2 separate regions of the Homo sapiens genome follow, and region 1 is linked to region 2. The links come from fine-mapping of genetic effects on gene expression. Tissue or cell type: whole blood. Region 2 holds a variant in brackets; the other region holds the start of a gene. All regions are shown on one strand. Distances are from middle to middle. Region 1 holds the start of KDM2B (lysine demethylase 2B). Region 2 holds the start of MIR7107 (microRNA 7107).

Region 1 (5,496 bases), 140 kb before region 2:
CTTGAGCCTAGGAGTTGGAGACCAGCCTGGGCAACACGGCAAAACCCTGTCTCTACCAAAAATACAAAAATTAGCTGGGCATGGTGGTGCACTCCTGTAGTCTCAGCTACTTGGAAGGCTAAGGTGGAGCATTGCTGAGTCCAGGAGGTGGAGGTTGCAGTGAGCTGAGATTGTGTCACTGCACTCCAGCCTGGGCAACAGAGCAAGACCCTCTCTCAAAAAAAAGAAAAGAAAAATCAGGAGTTATGATAATCATATATGAATATGAGAACAACTTCAATTTCTTATCAAGATTCTGGTTTCTGAGAGCTACATCCAGTGTCCACCCTTTCCTTGGGAAGCTGCAGGTCCATCGTCCTACCCAGCCTCGAGTATGCCCCAATCTGCATGCCCCACGCTGCATCTTCTTTTCTCTAGCCTCTCTGTCTTTGGGCACAGAGTTGCTCAATCAACCTTTGATGAATGAAGAATGAATGGGGGTAACTCAGGCAGGATTTGACTGGGCCCTTTGTAAGATCGAGCAGGAGGGTCCAGGAAATAATTATTATTATGTTTCCAATACAACCGGCCCGGTGTTTTCCTGCAAGAAAAAGTACATCTCTGGGGTAAGCACCTTCACCTTCTCTCTTCCCTTACCTACTCTCCACTTCTCTGGGACAATTAGTCAACACTGGGAGCTCCAGGGTCTTGGCCCTTCCCCCTTTGGTCCAAAATAACCTCCTCCCCCACTTTGAGCAAATGCTTGGAATTCTTTCAACTGGAGGACAAAGCCTTTCATCTGCCAATTACTGATAAAGAGAAAATGCAAATATCGAGGGGGAAGGTGATTCATCAAGGGCCCAACATTTATTGAGTGGCCACTTAGGACCCGGCAGCAGGGCAGGCATTCTGGGGGAGGCCAAGGGGAACAAACCCCCGGCTGGCCCATTCTTTTCTCGTGTTTGCGGTTTCCTCGAGGTTTGTAAAGGGGGGGGATTAAATGAGGTGACTACCCAGCCCCTTCCCACTCTGACAGGCCAGGAACTCCTCGTGGAGGTGATAGATGGACTTAACTGTTTTTATACTAAGGTGGCTGCCATTGGACCTTTTTCTGATGCCAGCTTTTGGGGCCACTATGAGGCCACTTGGAGAGAAAGAAGGGCCTCAGGGAGAAAAAAGAATTAATTAGATGAAGCATTCTATTATATATTTTTTGCTTTATTTCACTTAATTCACTTTGCGTCACTCTCCAGCCCATGCAGCCTCCTTTGAACATGTTTATTTCATTATGGGGCAGTAGTGAGGCTGGTAAGTTACTAAAAAAAAAAAAAAAAAAAAAAAAAGCACGTGATGGCCAAGCCAGGCTCCAGTGTGAGCCCTGGCAGCGGCACATACGCGCTATGTGATCCTGGGTGAGTGGCTTTGCTTTTCTTAGTCCTAATTTCCTCCTTTGCAAAATGGGAACGAACAAGACGATTTCCCTTAAAGGGTTCTTGTGAGAAAGACAGGAACAAATAAAATGGTCCATGGTTCTGGACGGACTGAAGGCAGAACCGGCAGCACTCACACGAAGGGCTACTGATTGCACGCAGCAGCCAACGTGGGCGATTTCAGTTTGGAAACAAATTTTGATGTTTCCCAGCCTCATCCCTGCTTAAAAGATTTTTACAGCTAGTGAACATGAATGAAAACAAACTTCAAAGAGTAGCCTTTGAGGATGGGTGGGAAAGACTACAGTCAGATAGGACAGGAAACTTCTAAGGTGAGTGAGGGGGAAGCTGTCTCTTAGGACGGCCAATACGATGCTGATAGTGACATCGTATCTCCTGGTGGGGAAGCCACGTCCTCCCCACAGGTCTGTCTGATAGCCTGGGGACCATATGGGAGCACAGCAATCATTCAGATTCATAATTTCTCTGAGCTTCAGTTTCCCTATCTGCAAAATGACCTGCTCCAAGTATCCCACAGGGTTATGGCAGAAATAAAATGTCAGGCTCAAAGCCTGCTATCTACAATGTCCCTTTATCGTCTCCCTCTTGCCATGTCATTTTATCAGCATCTTTACCCGCAAGATCAGGCCTAGCAGGGCGCCACAGCTGGGGCTGGAGGAATGTTTAGGGCTAGCTTTTCTCAAGCCAAGTCGACCTGACTGTTGCTCATGATGGGAGGACAAGACAACCCAGGACCAGTGCTGGGGTAGTCAAAAACACTAGTAAGTGGACAGGGACCTAATGACACCCATGTATGTACGGAGGGTGCCGATACCTCCGCTAAGAAGCCCTGTAGGGGCTTCATCAAGGGCACTAGAGTTCCCCCCACCTATCCCAGAGCACCATGCACCTTTCCACCGACTTGTCTTCTATAAACTACCAACAAGGGCTTACCCTTCGCTCCTGTGCGGGCTGCGTTAGGAGGCGCCAGATCCAATTCTCTGCGTCTTTCGCTCCTGAGCATCTATCTGCTCCCCTTGCCGAGCGCAAGAACCTTTAAAAAATGTCCAACTTCTGTTTCAGGGCTGGTCGCCTAGTAAAGGAGTCCACAGAGGCGGGCAGAATGAATGAATGAAAGGCAACGTCTTCCGGTCAGCTGCGGACTGCAAAGGCTCTGGTCTGGCTGTATTTCCTGTACGTGTGTGTGTCCACATCTTTGAGTGCCGGGAGTTTAAAAGTTAGGCAGTCCTTATAGGTATGGAAGCCGAGCTAATTTCCTTCTGAGCCCCCCAAATGCCTCCTCCACATGGCGGGTCCGCAAATGGGGGGATCTGCAGAGGATCACCCCCCACGAAAAAGACATGCAGCAGAAAAGCAAAAAAAGAAAACAGTTATATATACAAAATGCTTTGAATTTGAGTCGGCCACACAGGTAATGTTGGGGGAGGGGTGGATGAAAGAAGAGGAAGAGGGGTAGCCCTGGGCAATGAGGGCAGGAACGGAGGTGGGGGGTCGTTTTTGGGGGTGCCAGGCCCCGGGGGCTTTCACGCCAGCATGCTCGGCTTGCATTTCCGCGCCTCCCGCTGAGGCCAGCCGTGCAAATCTGCACCTCCCTCCCCGCCCCCTCCTCCTTCCCTCCCTCCCTGCCCCGCCATCTCCGGGATGCGCCCGCCGCCTGCAACTCGGCCCTCCAAAAGTCAGCTCTGCACACAACTCCCGGGCGGCGGCGGCGCCTGCGTGCAGAGGCGCACTCGTGACCCAACAACAAAACAGCGATGCCACGGCGCTAACGGCGCCCGGTGCCTCCCGGGCTCCCTCCCCGCCCCATACCTCCTCGGGCCGCCGCCCCCACCCCCCCAAGCCCGGGCCGAGAGCCCCCCCAAATAGCCCGGCCGCGGGCTCCGAGCGCGATCGGCAACAATGTTTACGTTCCGGGGATTATGACGTCGACGCCTCCCCCCCCCCACAACTGCTGAAAATGGTTTCCTAGGACTTTGCAAACGGATCTGCCTAAGTGTTGGTGCAAAACTTTGTAGATCTCGGCTCTGGCTTGCTTTATTTATTTATTTTTTGGTTTGTTTTCTTTGGTCTTCCCTCCTTCCCCCCTCGGCCAAAATGCAGGGGGCAGGAGTGTTGACAATTAATTGGTGAACTCTCCTAAAAAAATGGAGGCAGAGAAAGACTCTGGAAGAAGATTGGTGTGTAGCTTTTTTTTTTTTTTTTTTTTTCCAAATCTGTATCTGGCATATGATAGATCTTTTTTTTTTTTTTTTTGGTTGTTTCTCGCTGCCTTTTCTTTCCTTTTCTGTATTTTGCAAGAGGACCGGGAAAAAAATATAATAAATTGCATGCAAAAGGAAGCAAGCTGCTTACTCCTCCAGCCCCTTGTGAGGCTTAGAGTCTCAGACACTTAAGTGGGGAGGTGGTATCGGGGAAAGGCGTGGAGGGGGGCTGAGCGGGCTCGGGGTTCGCCCGGAATCTGGGGGGCTGAGGGGCCGGGCGCTGGGCGGTGGAGGGAGGAGGCAGGGGGATGCGGGGAGTGGTGGGGGAGTCTCCTTAGGAAGTGAGTGTGCGCGCGCGCTTGTGGGGAGATGAGGCAGCTGCTGGTGCGTTTTGGGGTCTCCGATCCGAGCTTTGTGGCGGGCCGTCTGCCTCTCCCCCTTCCAAGCCCCGATTCTCCTCCCCCCACCTCCTCTTCTTGCACTGGCGGGCGGGCGGCGGGGGCGGCTGGGGTCTCAGCCCTTCCATTTCAGCTTTCCAGCTTCCCCGGTAGCTCGGGGGCGGCTCCAGCTTTAGAAATGCCGCCGGCCCCCGGTTCCGGCTTCCCGGCTCTGCCGCCGCGGCCGCTGGGGCTGCTGTTACCGCCGAGCCGGGCGCCGCAGCGGCTCCTCCTGGGGCCTACATTTGCCCCGCCAGCCCGTGTCCGGAGCCCCCTTCGCGGGTTACATAACCAGGCTCCCGGCCGAGTGGGCGAAGCCCAGCACATTTCGGGGGCGGGGGGCAGGGGAGGGTCCCCAGATGTCCCTTCAGTGCTTCCGAAGACACCGGAGGGGAGTACCCCGCGTAGAGCGCAGCTGGACCCTCGGGGTGCGGGCCCCTCTCCTTGTCCTGCTTTTCAGCATCTTTGGCAATTGCGCAAAGTTGCTTGGGTTGCAATGGTGGGGTGCAGGGGGCGCTCGGCTGCTGCACCTGTTAGTGCTGGGCCCAGGTTGAGAGGCGACCTCCAGCCCCCACAATAATGTCCCGGGCTCTCTGGTTTGGGTCCTCGCAGCGCCCGATTGACCGCCAGCGATACGACGAGAACGAGGACTTGTCGGACGTGGAGGAGATCGTCAGCGTCCGCGGCTTCAGCCTGGAGGAGAAGCTTCGCAGCCAGCTGTACCAGGGGGACTTCGTGCACGCCATGGAGGGCAAAGGTGAGGCGCCCCCACCCCGGGCCGCCCTCTGCGCTGCGGGCCGAGCGCACGTGGGGAGGGAGCTGCCGGTGGCTGGGTTCGTATTTCGCGCCCGCGTCCCCCATTCCAGGGGATCCGGTGACGAAACGAGGCCGAGCACTGGGGGGGTGGGGTGGGGTGGTGAGGGAGGAGGGCAGGCAGTAAGGGGGGCCGGGCATGGGCCTAGGCCCGGCCCGCGCCCACCACCAGCCCCAGGGTGGGCAGAGCCAGGGGGCCGGCGGACAGAGGGACCTGGAGATGGACAGGCGGACCGAGGGAGGGCGGGAGCGCCGCGTCCTCCCCCTCCCCGAGCCGGTCGCGCTCCCTGCGCTGCCTGAGGTGCCGCCGCCTGGCTGGAACTGGGTTCAGGGCGCCCCTGGGGCATCGGGGTAAGGCCCCCCAGGCCCGAAGCCTTCCCAATCCCGTTCCCGCTTGGGGCCTGCCAGTGAGGAACTGGTGATGGGGGCGCGTCGGGTGTTTGGGACGATGCCCCCTTAGGCCTGGGGTCCGCAGAGCCGCATTCCCCCATGGGCTCTGCCAGATTGGATCAGGGACCCCATGAGCCCTGAAGCTGTTGACCTGAACCCCTACCTGGGCCGGAGCTGTCTAGCGCTACAGCCTTGATAGGTTGAAGCCAAGAATTGGGGTCAGGG
Region 2 (5,000 bases):
ACAGTTCTGACCTCCTAACCTTTCTGTAAAGGTCTTGGGAGCCCGCAGTCCATGGTCTGTGCCTTGAATACCCACTGGTGAGATGCAGCTTCATCTCATCCGCATGGATCTGGGCTGCGCTCACGCCCCTGCTCCTTTGGGGCTTTTCTGAATGTGAGGCCTTCCCTGACCTCCATATTTAAAATCAGCCCCCCTTCTGCCCCTCACTCCAGCCCTCTAATTTTTCCCCATGTCTCTGTCTCTAACATGCTCTGTCCATTTTGTCTGCCTCCCTCCACTAAAATGTAAGCTCTGGATGGCAGAGATTTTGAGCTGTCTTGTTCCTTGCTGTATCCCCAGCAATTAAGAGTAGTATCTGGCATGTGGAGGTAGTAGCCTGATACGTATTTCAATGAATGAGTGAGCGAATGTGCCTGGGCCACTTTCCGGGGGTCTCCTGGCAGGCCCAAGGGGAGCAGCTCATTGCCCTTGAACTGGCCCCCCTGGGGGTCCGTGCTCCCCACCCCTGATGACTTGTCTTGTTCTCCCTGGCTCCTCAGCCAGTGCTGCCCCACACCGCCGTGTGCCTTGTGTGTGGCGAGGCGGGGAAGGAAGACACGGTGGAAGAGGAGGAAGGCAAGTTTAACCTCATGCTCATGGAGTGCTCCATCTGCAATGAAATCATCCACCCTGGATGCCTTAAGGTGAGTGGCCCAGTGGGGACAGGTGGTGCTGACGCTCTGGGGCAGGTAGGGTTGCTGGAGATGCTGGTGAGATGGTGGGATGCAGGTCGTGCAGTGAATTCCTGGAGGACCCCTGAGTCTGGGTGATCCTGTGTGTCAAGGGATAAGCCCGGGGCAAGGAGGGCCTGGAGTACCTCAGAGACCCAGTGTCATCAAAGGAATAAACACACCCCCACCTCCCAGGATGTCAGAACCAGAGAGGGTTTCCAGAGCCTCAGCAGATGGCAAACACAGGCTGCTTGTTTGTAGCTGGGCCAGAGGAAGCGCCTCCAGGTGGCTCCAGGCTTCTGGGAGAACAAGGCCCCACACCACACTCCTTCCCCCAGCACCCAGTAGAGTCCTCTGCAGAGTCCTTTCTGCATGCCAGGCGCTGAGCTCATGGCTTTACCTGGGTCATACCCCCCCAGTGAGATGGGCACACTAACTTTTATGGCCGAGGGCACCAGCCCACAGAGACGGAGTGTCTTGCCCAGGGTCCCAGAGAAGCAAAGGGGCTCAGCCTCTGAACCCTGGCCTGGATCCACAGCTGCCCGTCTCTGCCAGCCTCTGCAGCTGTGTTTTCTTTTGCCTGGAAACGGGATAGATGTGACGTTGGGGAGGGGGTGCTGCTGCTTCTGGAAGACGTGGCGTCACAGAGCCTTGTGCCCGTGGGCCATCTTCTCCGCCCGTCCCTCTTCTGAGTCCTGGTGTTCCCCGCAGATTAAGGAGTCAGAGGGTGTGGTCAACGACGAGCTTCCAAACTGCTGGGAGTGTCCGAAGTGTAACCACGCCGGCAAGACCGGGAAAGTGAGTGCCGGGCTCCAAGTCCCAGGGTCAGTCGGGAGAGGGGCGGGCCTGGGCCTGGCCGGGACCAGCCTGTCCCAGGAGTTTCAGGCAGGTGGGTTGCCGTCGGCCTGGGGAGGAGGAAGGGCAAGTCCAAAGGTATACAGTTGGTCTGTTCATTCTCTCTTTTTGGCCTACAAGCAAAAGCGTGGCCCTGGCTTTAAGTACGCCTCCAACCTGCCCGGCTCCCTGCTCAAGGAGCAGAAGATGAACCGGGACAACAAGGAAGGGCAGGAACCTGCCAAGCGGAGGAGTGAGTGTGAGGAGGCGCCCCGGCGCAGGTCGGATGAGCACTCGAAGAAGGTGCCGCCGGACGGCCTTCTGCGCAGAAAGTCTGACGACGTGCACCTGAGGAAGAAGCGGAAATACGAGAAGCCCCAGGAGCTGAGTGGACGCAAGCGGGTACGGACCAGGAGGGGCTGGGAGGCAAAGGGGTTGGTCTGGCTGGTCCCGGGTGCTGGGTTGGAGGGATGGGGCAGGGGGTGGGCAGCAGGTAGAGCTTGGGATAATCCCGGCCTCTTGCTGCCCTGAGCAGGTCACCTAAGTCCTGAGAGCCCTGCCCCAAAGAAAGGAGGGGAAAACCAGCGAGTCACTCCTCTTCCCACTCCACCCCCCTTTAGGCCTCATCGCTTCAAACGTCCCCCGGTTCCTCCTCTCACCTCTCGCCGAGGCCCCCTCTAGGCAGCAGCCTCAGCCCCTGGTGGAGATCCAGTCTCACTTACTTCCAGCAGCAGGTGCTCCCACGACGCACGCCCTCCTGAGGCCCCGGGGACTGGCGAGTCCTGGGCTGTCCCCCACCCCACCCCGCTGGTCCTCCACCCCACTGCTGCCTCTCCTGAGGCTTCCCAGGTCTCGGCCCCAGATCTCTGGCTCGTGGTTCTGGCTTGGGGCCTGGGAAGCTGTCTGTGCCTAGAGCCTCTGTTGGTTGGGATGGAAGCTGTGAGTCCAGGGAACCTCTGAGGAGCCTGGTGGCCCTGCTCCACCCACGGGCCGTGCTGTCACCAGCCACAAGGTGGCGCCAGGAGTCTCTCCCAGCTCTAGCCATTCCTGCTGGGCCGGGGATTCCCACAGGGCTGTGCTCCAGAACTGGCTCCCAGAGCCGAGGATGATTTGAATGGGCGGCTGCACATCTCCAGGTCTGTGGGGTGGGAGGTCAGTTGGGTGGGAACAGTTCAACTGTACTCCTACTTCCAGCTTCTTCCTTGAAAGCTGCAGGCAGGGCTCGCCCGTCTGTCGGTCAGACGTGGAGATGGCATTTGTGGGGAAGGCCTCCCTCCAGCCCCTCCTCTGGAGACTGTGGACTCGTGGTGGGGTGG[G/A]GTGTCGAGGAGACCAAATCCCACGAGCCCGGGGAGCAAGCTCTGCGTCCTTTCTTTTTCGTGACAGCTCAAACCTGGCAAAGAAGATAAGCTTTTCAGGAAAAAGGTACCATCTTCCCCTCCCTCCTGTGCCCCAGGCCTGAGCGGTTAGAGCTGCACCGCAGCTCCCTGGGCCACAGTCCCGTGGCAGGGGGGCGGGAGGCCTTGGGCGGGCGCAGCCCTGAGCCCCAGAGGCTGACGCGTCTCCGCTCTCGCCCTCAGCGGCGGTCCTGGAAGAACGCCGAGGACCGCATGGCGCTGGCCAACAAGCCCCTCCGGCGCTTCAAGCAGGAACCCGAGGACGAACTGCCCGAGGCGCCCCCCAAGACCAGGGAGAGCGACCACTCCCGCTCCAGCTCCCCCACCGCGGGACCCAGCACCGAAGGGGCCGAGGGCCCGGAGGAGAAGAAGAAGGTGAAGATGCGCCGGAAGCGGCGGCTTCCCAACAAGGAGCTGAGCAGGGAGCTGAGCAAGGAGCTCAACCACGAGATCCAGAGGACGGAGAACAGCCTGGCCAACGAGAACCAGCAGCCCATCAAGTCGGAGCCTGAGAGCGAGGGCGAGGAGCCCAAGCGGCCCCCGGGCATCTGCGAGCGTCCCCACCGCTTCAGCAAGGGGCTCAACGGCACCCCCCGGGAGCTGCGGCACCAGCTGGGGCCCAGCCTGCGCAGCCCGCCCCGTGTCATCTCCCGGCCCCCACCCTCCGTGTCCCCGCCCAAGTGTATCCAGATGGAGCGCCATGTGATCCGGCCACCCCCCATCAGCCCCCCGCCTGACTCGCTACCCCTGGACGATGGGGCAGCCCACGTCATGCACAGGGAGGTGTGGATGGCCGTCTTCAGCTACCTCAGCCACCAAGACCTGTGTGTGTGCATGCGGGTCTGCAGGACCTGGAACCGCTGGTGAGCGGCGGCCTGTGTAGGGCTCTAGGTTAAGGCTCAGGCGGCACCAGGGATGGCCCGTGGTGTGTGGAGTCGCTGGCGATGCTCTTTCCTTCCAAACCCCAGTATGGCTTCATTGTGCTCCGCAAAGCGTTCCAGCTGGCTACAGCGGCCCCTCTGGTCTTGTCAGAGGAGGTGACCCCGTTTATTCCGATTTAGCTTCCTGGAGGGTGAAGTGAGGACCACGTGGAGTCCTTGGCTTCGGAGAGTTAGTCCAGGTTTCCAGCAAGGCTGCGAGTTGCAACTTCAGTCCAGCCGATATTTACCAGCTTTCTGGCCTTAGCTCTGCCTTACCCTCTTGGATGAACGGGCATGACGCCAGCTTCATGGGGGTTGTTTGGAGGAACGGCCGGTAGAGGGCGTTGTAAAGCCCATGGTAAATACTTGATGGAGGCCGGGCGCAGTGGCTCATGCCTGTAATCCTAGCGCTTTGCGGGCGGATCACTTGAAGTCAGGAGTTCAAGACCAGCCTGGCCAACAAGGTGAAACCTCATTTCTACTAAAAATAAAAAAATTAGCCGGGTGTGGTGGCGCACACCTGTAATCCCAGCTACTCGGGAGGCTGAGGCAGGAGAATAGCTTGAACCTGGGAGACGGAGGTTGTGGTGAGCAGAGATTGCACCACTACACACCAGCCTGGGAACAGAGCGAGACTCCGTCTTAATACATACATACATACTTGATGGAGAGTGGAGGCCATGGCTGTTAGAGCAGGTGGGAGGTGCCCGCGTGGGGGCAGGATAGGTGCTACATAGAGAAGGGTCCAGAGCGCTGAGTTAAGGAGCCTCCCAGAGGTTGTTAGGTGGGGACAGTTAAGAGCTGTGTGTGGGCTCCCTAGAGGAGCCCCACCTCTGACGATGTGTCCCCACGGGGCCGGTCCCCAGGTGCTGCGATAAGCGGTTGTGGACCCGCATTGACCTGAACCACTGCAAGTCTATCACACCCCTGATGCTGAGTGGCATCATCCGGCGACAGCCCGTCTCCCTCGACCTCAGCTGGACCAATATCTCCAAGAAGCAGCTGAGCTGGCTCATCAACCGGCTGCCTGGTGAGCCCTGGGCCAGTGGCCCCGAGTGTGTCTGCTGCAGTGAGGGCTGGGGACACATCCCCTGACCTTCACCCTTTTCTATGTCCCCCCAGGGCTCCGGGACTTGGTGCTG

Evidence for each region.
Region 1: KDM2B starts here. The variant in region 2 is fine-mapped to the expression of KDM2B in whole blood (TOPMed, PIP 0.98).

The regions. Positions count from the first base shown.
Region 1 is chr12:121,578,131-121,583,626 of GRCh38, reverse strand. KDM2B (lysine demethylase 2B) reads left to right here and starts at 2,604. Exons shown (of 23, transcript NM_032590.5): 1 at 2,604-2,841; 2 at 4,681-4,825. The coding sequence starts at 2,716. KDM2B-DT (KDM2B divergent transcript) reads right to left here and starts at 3,116. Exons shown (of 4, transcript NR_183427.1): 1 at 2,364-3,116. RefSeq lists enhancers at 1-507, 508-1,443, 2,379-3,314 and silencers at 2,884-2,933, 3,014-3,323, 4,483-4,562.
Region 2 is chr12:121,440,958-121,445,957 of GRCh38, reverse strand. KDM2B (lysine demethylase 2B) reads left to right here. Exons shown (of 23, transcript NM_032590.5): 14 at 540-683; 15 at 1,422-1,508; 16 at 1,686-1,946; 17 at 2,165-2,278; 18 at 2,928-2,966; 19 at 3,122-3,801; 20 at 4,725-4,888; 21 at 4,981-5,000. MIR7107 (microRNA 7107) reads left to right here and starts at 1,606; the gene lies at 1,606-1,685. The variant G/A (reference allele first, on the strand shown) is at 2,861.